Homo sapiens: one gene and its partner. The protein of the gene in region 1 purifies or fractionates together with the protein of each later gene. This does not show direct contact. Each region holds a gene or a part of one and is shown in the gene's direction. Other genes may lie near its edges.

Region 1 (4,331 bases):
ATTCTCAGAGAAGCACATATTTAGCATCTACTATGTCCTGAGAAAATATGTTAGATATTTTCATGCCTACGTAAAAGGAATAGCGTGGGAGAAGGGTTGAGTGAGAAACAGAGAGAATTGTTATTTTCCTCACATTATACTTGAAGAAAATAATGTTTTGAGAACTTAATTTGCCAAGCAAGAATTTTATTTAGGATTATTTCTACCATATTATAGCTATACTATGGATACTCAATGGAGTTGTCCCATTGATGATTGGAAATGGAATTTAGAAACATGGTAAAAAAAAAATCTAACTATACCTATAGCCAAAAAATCAGAAAGAAGGTAATGAACATGTGAAAATCAGTCACAATTAACACATTAGAGGAGTGCCTTGTAGAATAAATATTGTGATATACATTCATAAATAAATGATTTAAAGAAGGAAACAGTAGAATCAGGAGAGAGACAGAAAGAAGATATCCAAAATGCAGCAGCATCCTACGGAGAAGAGTGTTCAGAGATACTGGAGAAGCGAGGAGGGATAGTTAGCAGTGCTGGATGCTCCCGGTGGGTGAAAGTGATTGAGGCCTGGGAGAAACCTTTTAGAGTTCAACAAGCCTTTTCCAAACTGAAAACCAATAAACTGAAGACATCTTCAGGGTGTAACCGATTTTAAAAGTTCAGCTTTGAAAACGTTGGGGAAAGCAGTCATTTACTACAAAAACAAAAACTTTGAAGTGGTTTGAACATAAAACAAAGTTAAGAAACTAACAGAAAAAAAAAGTAGTCAGTATTCAAAAACAAGCTTCGGGGGAATTTACCAGAGTATGAAAGTTATCAACACAGAGCGACTGGCTCAGAGCCCTCTCAAGTGTGTGATACGACTGGAAACTTCTTCTCTGAGATAAACGCCAGATCATTTATGAGAGAGAGCTTTCCCATTTTCAGACAGCTCTCCTGAGGACAGAAGGATTTATCTGCAGCAGTGGAATTCTAGTTATATGGTAGGAAGACTCCTGCACACACCTCTTTAAATGGACTGTACCTTTGCCTTAATAGGAAAAGATCTCCTGTTTTTCTGGAAAGACAGAGGCAGCTCTGGGGCAGGAAGGTCTTCCTAGTTGTGAGCACCGTGTCTACGGATGGTTTGTCCTTCGCTCAGTCTCCTGAGCCGGAGCAAAGGATGTGGCTGGGCCAGGAGGCGGGGACTGCATCTACATGTGTGGATGTGTGTGTGTGTGGTGTGTTCTCATTTCCGCTTCCCCTTTTGAGCAGGCAACAGCAGTTGAATGAGTTCAGGGAGAAAGGCATAATCTACAACATGATACTTTCTCACTTGCTTCACCTCTGTGCCCACACCTGTGAAGGCCTCGGCCCAGCTTCGACAACTGCTTTGCCTCAAACTCAGCTTTCTACCAGCAGACAGGTAAGCACAGCCTTTATCTCAGTTTCAAGGCTGTACTGATTTAGGGTGATGCTAGGAGAAAGAAGGAAACATGTCAGAGAAAAATCAGGCTGTCAAGTCAAGGGAAAATCAAGAGAAAATCTCCCACCACTCTTACTTCAACCTTAAAAGCATCCATCATTATGCCTAGGAGAACGATGCTGGGTGCCCTTTTGCTTTCGTTTGTTTGTTTTCTCTTTATTATCAGAGAGGTAATCTTTCTAGATTCTCAAAACTTGGGTCTCTTTGATGACTTGAATAACATTTTAGGAATTTTTTTTCACCTTTCTCACCTGCAAAGTTCTTCTCTGTGTCTTGCTGAACTCATTGTTGCTGCAATTTCCATCTGATTATAACATCGAAAAGTTCTCAAGGAAGAAGTTTCCCGGTTTCATTTCAGGCCCTACTCTAGTGTCCATAGCTCCAACCATTGAGAGTACCTGGCTGAAATCAACTTTGCTTTCTGTGGGTATGACCTCTTTCTTCAGAAGCTGTAGAAGAAACTTGTTGAGATAAACTGCAGCAAGATATATTGAGGTCAGCTACGAGGGAGGATGTACACACTTGAGTGAGGTAAGGTCAAATTCACCGGGAGGCTCAAGATAGATGGATAGCCACCATCAGGACCAGATTTCAGGGTTCACATCTCAAAGATAGATAGATGGATGTGTTGCCTTCTCAGTGACCTACATAATATTGGGGGCTTCATGCTCCTCCAACACCCCTTGCCCCAGTGGTAGCAGGCAGAGCATATCACCACCTACATGAGTTTTGGGGTAGATGGAGGAGTGGAAAGATCCTCCACCCTGGGGTTTTCCCATGCCCCTTCTGTGCCACTAAGCTCACCAGTGGGTGGAAGAAAAAGGGTGGGTCCCCAGGGCAGGGCAAGGACAAGAAAGGAGAGTTCCACAGAAGTGATTTGACAAGACTGTGAGCATTTACAGGAGATATCCAGGGAAGTACTAGTGACTCTGTATACCACAAATGGTCCTGAGTAGAGAGGTAAGGAGACTTTCTAGATGGTGCAGGGCAGTACCTAGGATGGGAGGTTGGAGGTAGGAACCTTCAACTTGTGTGTCCAAGTATCAGACTCAATAGTTGTTCAGCTGAGTGATTAGAGATAAAGATCTCACAATATTGTCTTGCAGCATGAAGTGTTAGTAGGAAGAAGGGAAGTCAGGTTTATTGTCTGTCTCTACTTGGACTATTATCAGAAATAACAAGCTGAAGATATAGCAGAAGGGATAGAAAGCAATTTAACATCTGAGTTATTCGCATGCACCCCAGGGTGTTTAGAAACCATTTACAACCACGCTACCAACATGTTCTCATAACTCTTGGGTTTTTTGAAAATTAAGATGGAACCCTGCGATTCAGCATTATGTAGTGAACATGAAGCCCCAACCGTCATTTTCAGTTCAATGTTTGATTTGGATTCTAGTATGGAGGTCTCGTCTCAGCCAATGCTGTGACTTACAAGATTCCTTCTGGGCTACAGTAAGGGGAAAAGATCACACGTTTATTTCCACCTGCAAACTGACAACTGTTCTCTTTTCCACCTAAGGCACAAGACCAAAGTGGATATTCCAGTACCCACAGTACTGTGTGCCTTACAACACCCAGGCCTGATGCAGAATGGCCTAAACACAGATTTCAGATTGAGAAAAGAGTTCAGTCAAATAAGTAGAGGGACGAGGAGAAGAGAGTGTGTAGATATTGAAAAAGAAAAGCAGGAAAGAAGAAAAATGAATATATGCAGGACAGAGCTTATTACCAAGGAAATGAAACTGAAGAATTAAAGATACGAATTCACAGAGCTAACACAATGGTTGAGAAATCTGCTCATTCTCCCTACTTTCTCTTGATGAAGCCATCTATAAATCAGCTCAGATAAACTGCTGTTTCTTATTCTTGATGTCTTTATTGCCCATTCAAATGAAGATATTTGATGTCTCCCTACATTGAGAACAAGCGATTAATTTTTTTTCCAAATCCACAACTTTAATATTTCCTGTAGCAATTATACAAGCCTTTCTTAAAATTCATATCCTAAAAGTGGAAGTAAGGAAGAAAGGGAAGGAGAGGAAAAAGGTCTTAGATGGTCTTCTTTCAGTATTTATTCAGCTACGCTTATTTGTGGGAGAAAGAGTATGAAAAGGGAGGGGAATAGGAGTTCTATTGACTAATGGGCATTTTTTCTTTCTGTTATTTACCAAGTAACATCTCTCCTTTTCCCCGAACAGATTGAACTGCTCCTTAGACAATAGAAGTCTCAGAATGCTCAAATATTATACTCAGGGAAATTCTTGTTCTGATGATCTTCCAACCTGAGTGACATGGAAGAGGGTTAGGAGCTAGAAGACAGTTCTATGAAGGAATGTGAGAATTTGTTGCAGATTGGGGTATGTCAAATGGGGGACAATCCACCTGGGTTGAGGTGGAGTTTGTCCAGTTCATGAACAGAGAAATGTTAGCTACTCTGGGATTTCCCGCAGCTCTGCGATGGTAATGATGTATATCTTGGCTGTGGATGCAGAAGGTCTTATGGGCCACATCATGGAAACCCCATTTCCTTCTTCTCTCCTCCCACACTGGTTCTCACTCTCAGTCTCAACTCACAGGCACTGCTTGGGGCATAGGTACAAAACAGACAGAAGAGAAGAGAGGTCTGTCTCATACATGTCCCCTAGAGCACTAAAGGCAAACCTGGGACTGGGCCTTGGAAACCAAGTGTGGCAGGAGGAAGGCTGTATGATATAAAGGAAGAAAGCATGCATCTGGAACTCAGAACTTGTGAGTTTGGTTCCCATTTAAAACCACTAATATTCTTTGTGACTCCAGGCAAGCCTGCTTCTCCCTCCCTCTCTCTCTCTCTTTCTCCCTCCTTTCTCTCTCTCTTCAG
Region 2 (3,817 bases), on another chromosome or scaffold:
TCAGGTCTTCTTACAACTTATTGTACTTTAACTGTAATCTGTTAACAGATTATGACATTCTTAAGACTTTTTCAGTTCGTTTTTTGTTTTTGAGACAGGGTCTCTGTCGCCCATGCTGCGCACCAGCATAGCCCGCTGCAGCATTGACCTCGCAGGCTCAAAGAATCCTCCCACTTCAGCCTCCATAGCAGGTCGGACCACAGGTGTGCGCCCCACACCCGACTTTTTTTTTTTTTCTTTTTTGTAGAGACTGGATCTTCCAGTATTGCCTAGGCTGGTCTCAAACTCCTGGGCTCAAGTGATTCTCCCACCTCAGCTCTCGAGTACTGGGATTATAGGTGTGAGCTGCCATGCCCAGCAACTTTTTCAGTTTGAATAAATCGTAAATTACATTTACCTTGACTTTCAATAGAGAATATATAAGAATGTAAATTTATGGGAAAATGAATCACATTTTAATTTCTGGGGTCTTTGATTTCATAATTTCATTTAAAGTTCATTTTGAAGCTCATTTTCCCATATTTTTATATTCATGTTTAAGTTAAAATGTAGTAAAACATAACTACATGTTCTTGTTTCAAATTGGGAACTCAATTTGGAAGAGATTCCTTTTAGTCTGAGATTTTAAGATGTTTTAGCAGCAATCTTTTTTTTTTTTTCTTTCCTCGCTCTTGTTGCCCAGGCTGGGGTGCAATGAGGCGATCTCAACTCACCGCAACCTACGCCTCCCAGGTTCAAGTGATTCTCCTGCCTCAGCCTCTCGAGTAGCTAGGATTACAGGCATGCGCCACCTCACCCAGCTAATTTTGTATTTTTAGTAGATAGAGGGTTTCTCCATGTTAGTCAGGCTGGTCTTGAACTCCCGACCTCAGGTCATCCACCCGCCTCGGCCTCCCAAAGTGCTAGGATTACAGGCATGAGCCACCGTGCCCAGCCTTAGCAGCAGTCTTGTAAGATGGTAACTTTTTCACAGTAGCAGCTTATGAAACTTATGATGTGAAATAACTAAACAGACCCCTTCATATTAAGCTTTGCAACCTTTTTAAAAGAAATCCATGCATCATAACTTATTTTCAAAACATCAACTTTATGATATCTATCATATATATTTGCCTAGGTTTTTTGTCTTTTGGTTTTTGGGTTTTTTTTTTTTTATACTTTAAGTTTTAGGGTACATGTGCACAATGTATTTGGGTTTTTTTTTGAGACAGAGTCTCACTCTGTCATCCAGGCTGGAGTGCAGTGGCATGATCTCGGCTCACTGTGGCCTCTGTCTCCCAGGTTCAATAAATTCTCCTGCCTCAGCTTCCCAAGTAGCTGCATTACAGGCATGTACCACCATGCCTGGCTAATTTTTGTTTGTTTGCTTTTTGAGATGGAGTTTCGCTCCTGTTGCCCAGGCTGGAGTGCAATGGCGCGATCTCAGCTCACCACAACCTCCACTTCCTGGGTTCAAGCGATTCTCCTGCCTCAGCCTCCCGAGTAGCTGGGATTACAGGCATGCGCCACCATGTCTGGCTCATTTTGTGTTTTTATAGAGACAGGGTTTGTCCATGTTGGTCAGGCTGGTCTCGAACTCCTGACCTCAGGTGATCTGCCCACCTCAGCCTCCCAAAGTGCTAGGATACAGGCATGAGCCACCGTGCCTGGCTAATTTTTGTATTTTTAGTAGAGATGGGATTTCACCATATTGGCCAGGCTCGTCTCGAACTCCTGACCTCAAGTGATTCCCCCTTCTGCCTCCCAAAGTGCTGGGATTACAGGTGTGAGCCACCGCGCCTGGCCATGTTTTTTTTGTTTTTAAACTAGAAGCTCCAAAAGTTTTTAGTGAAGGCTAAGCTGTCATTGAATTATCCTAGAAATAATGTTTTTTAAATCACTTTATGAGCTGGGCGCTGTGGCTTATGCCTGTAATCCCATGGGAGACCAAGATGGGTGGATCACTTAAGGTCAGGATTTTGAGACCAGCCTGGCCAACATAGTGAAACCCCATCTGTACTAAAAATACAAAAAAATATCTGGGCGTGATGGCAGGCGCCTGTAATCCCAGCTACTCGGGAGGCTGAGGCAGGAGAATCTCTTGAACCCAGGAGGCGGAGGTTGCAGTGAGCTGAGATCACCCATTGCACTCCAGCCTGAGCAACAAGAGCGAAATTCTGTCTAAAAAAAAAAAAAAAATCACTTTATAAATATAGCTGTGGGGCTACTTTCATGCATATGGACTCAAAGGAAGCGCTCCCTAAACTGCATATTCATAAAAGTTAAAAGTAGAATGCTGTTCCTAATAAAAGTCTTTTTTTATAGAAGATTAATTTTTTAATTAATTTTAGTGTTGTGCTAAGGACCATGATGTTTTTCATTTCCTTAAAATTATAAGGTATTTTTTCAGTCTTTGAAGTTATTCATTAAAATTGAGAAAAGAACCCGTAAGCAGTATACAGATCAGAGCATCTTAAAATTTGGTAATTTTTTTTTTTTTGAGACCGAGTTTCACTATTGTTGCCCAGGCTGGAGTGCAGTGGCGCGATCTCGGCTCACCGCAACCTCTGCCTCCCGGGTTCAAGTGTTTCTCCTGCTTCAGCCTCCCAAGTAGCTGGGATTACAGGCATGCGCCACCACGCCCGGCTAATTTTGTATTTTTTTTTTTTTTGTAGTAGAGATGGTGTTTCTCCATGTTGGTCAGGCTGGTCTTGAACTCCTGACCTCAGGTGATCTGCCCACCTCAGCCTCCCAAGTGCTGGGATTACAGGCATGAGCCACTGCGCCCAGCCAGTTATTTTTATATGTTAGCCATGTCTTGATTTATGTTAAAGATCTGGGATAAGGCAGACAGTTTCCTAAAGGAACATATTACCTAGATTACATGAGAAGGAAGTGAGGAGCCAGGAAAAGATAGGCTGTTCTTGGGTTGGTAAGGACCAGTGGCCAGGTGGGTGTTGGCAGAGGAAAGACAGGCAAGGTGGGTGTGAAGCTTGGAAATGGATCTGTAGCTACAGGATGTTGGAAACAGAAAACCAGCTCTCACGCCTGATGGAATGTCTTGAGAGCTGGGTACCAGGAAGTGAAAACACTGCCCAATGAAATGAACAAGAGATGAATGAATTGCCTTGTTAGGCACCTTCCACCATTCCCTCTCTGCTACATCCCTGATGGCCCTCTTGGTGTTTGTTAACCATGGTAACTGCCTGTAGAATTGTTTTTAGTTGTTGGCTCTCTGAGTTGTAGCAAAGTAGAATTATGAGTTCATCCAATTCATATACACAGTCAATTAGCCTCATATCTTTTTTTTTTTTTGTCTTGAGGCCGGGTCTCACTCTGTCACCCAGACTGGAGTCCAGTGACATAAACAAGGCTTACTGCAGCCTCAACCTTTGGGCTTACGTGATCCTCCTGCCGCAGCCTCCCAAGTAGCTGGGAGTACAGGCATGTGCTACCACGCCTGAATAATTTTTGAAATTTTTGTAGAGATAGGGTCTCATTGTGTCATCCAGGCTGGTCTTGAACTCTTGGGCTCAAGCAATCCTCTTGCCTCGGCCTCACAATGTGCTGGGATTATAGGTGTGAAGCACCACACCCAGCCTAGCCTCATCTCTTCTATGGCCACAGTGCCAGCCAGCAGTCCATCAAACTTTGCCAGTGGCCACGGGGGTACTGGCAAAGAAGTATAGATGGATCCCTGTAACTTAATCACTGCTACTAGAAAAAAAAAAACTGAGATCAGAAGAGTGGGTCAGTTGTATTACCCTCAGCTAGAAGAAATAGCAGAAGAATAAGTGGATGAAGCATCTTGATATCATGACTAATTAGGTTTGCACAT

What was found.
Region 2: the proteins of TESPA1 (region 1) and KCMF1 purify together in Homo sapiens (affinity purification with mass spectrometry; 2 studies listed by BioGRID and IntAct, with this or other methods). This does not show direct contact.

Annotation. Positions count from the first base shown.
Region 1 is NC_000012.12:54,981,665-54,985,995, reverse strand, and holds the start of TESPA1 (protein TESPA1), read left to right. Parts: upstream 1-1,233; 5' UTR 1,234-1,411; intron 1,412-1,829; exon of another isoform or gene 1,830-4,222; intron 4,223-4,331. UniProt on the Homo sapiens protein: Required for the development and maturation of T-cells, its function being essential for the late stages of thymocyte development.
Region 2 is NC_000002.12:84,977,361-84,981,177, forward strand, and holds part of KCMF1 (E3 ubiquitin-protein ligase KCMF1), read left to right. Parts: intron 1-3,817. UniProt on the Homo sapiens protein: E3 ubiquitin-protein ligase which accepts ubiquitin from an E2 ubiquitin-conjugating enzyme and then transfers it to targeted substrates, promoting their degradation by the proteasome.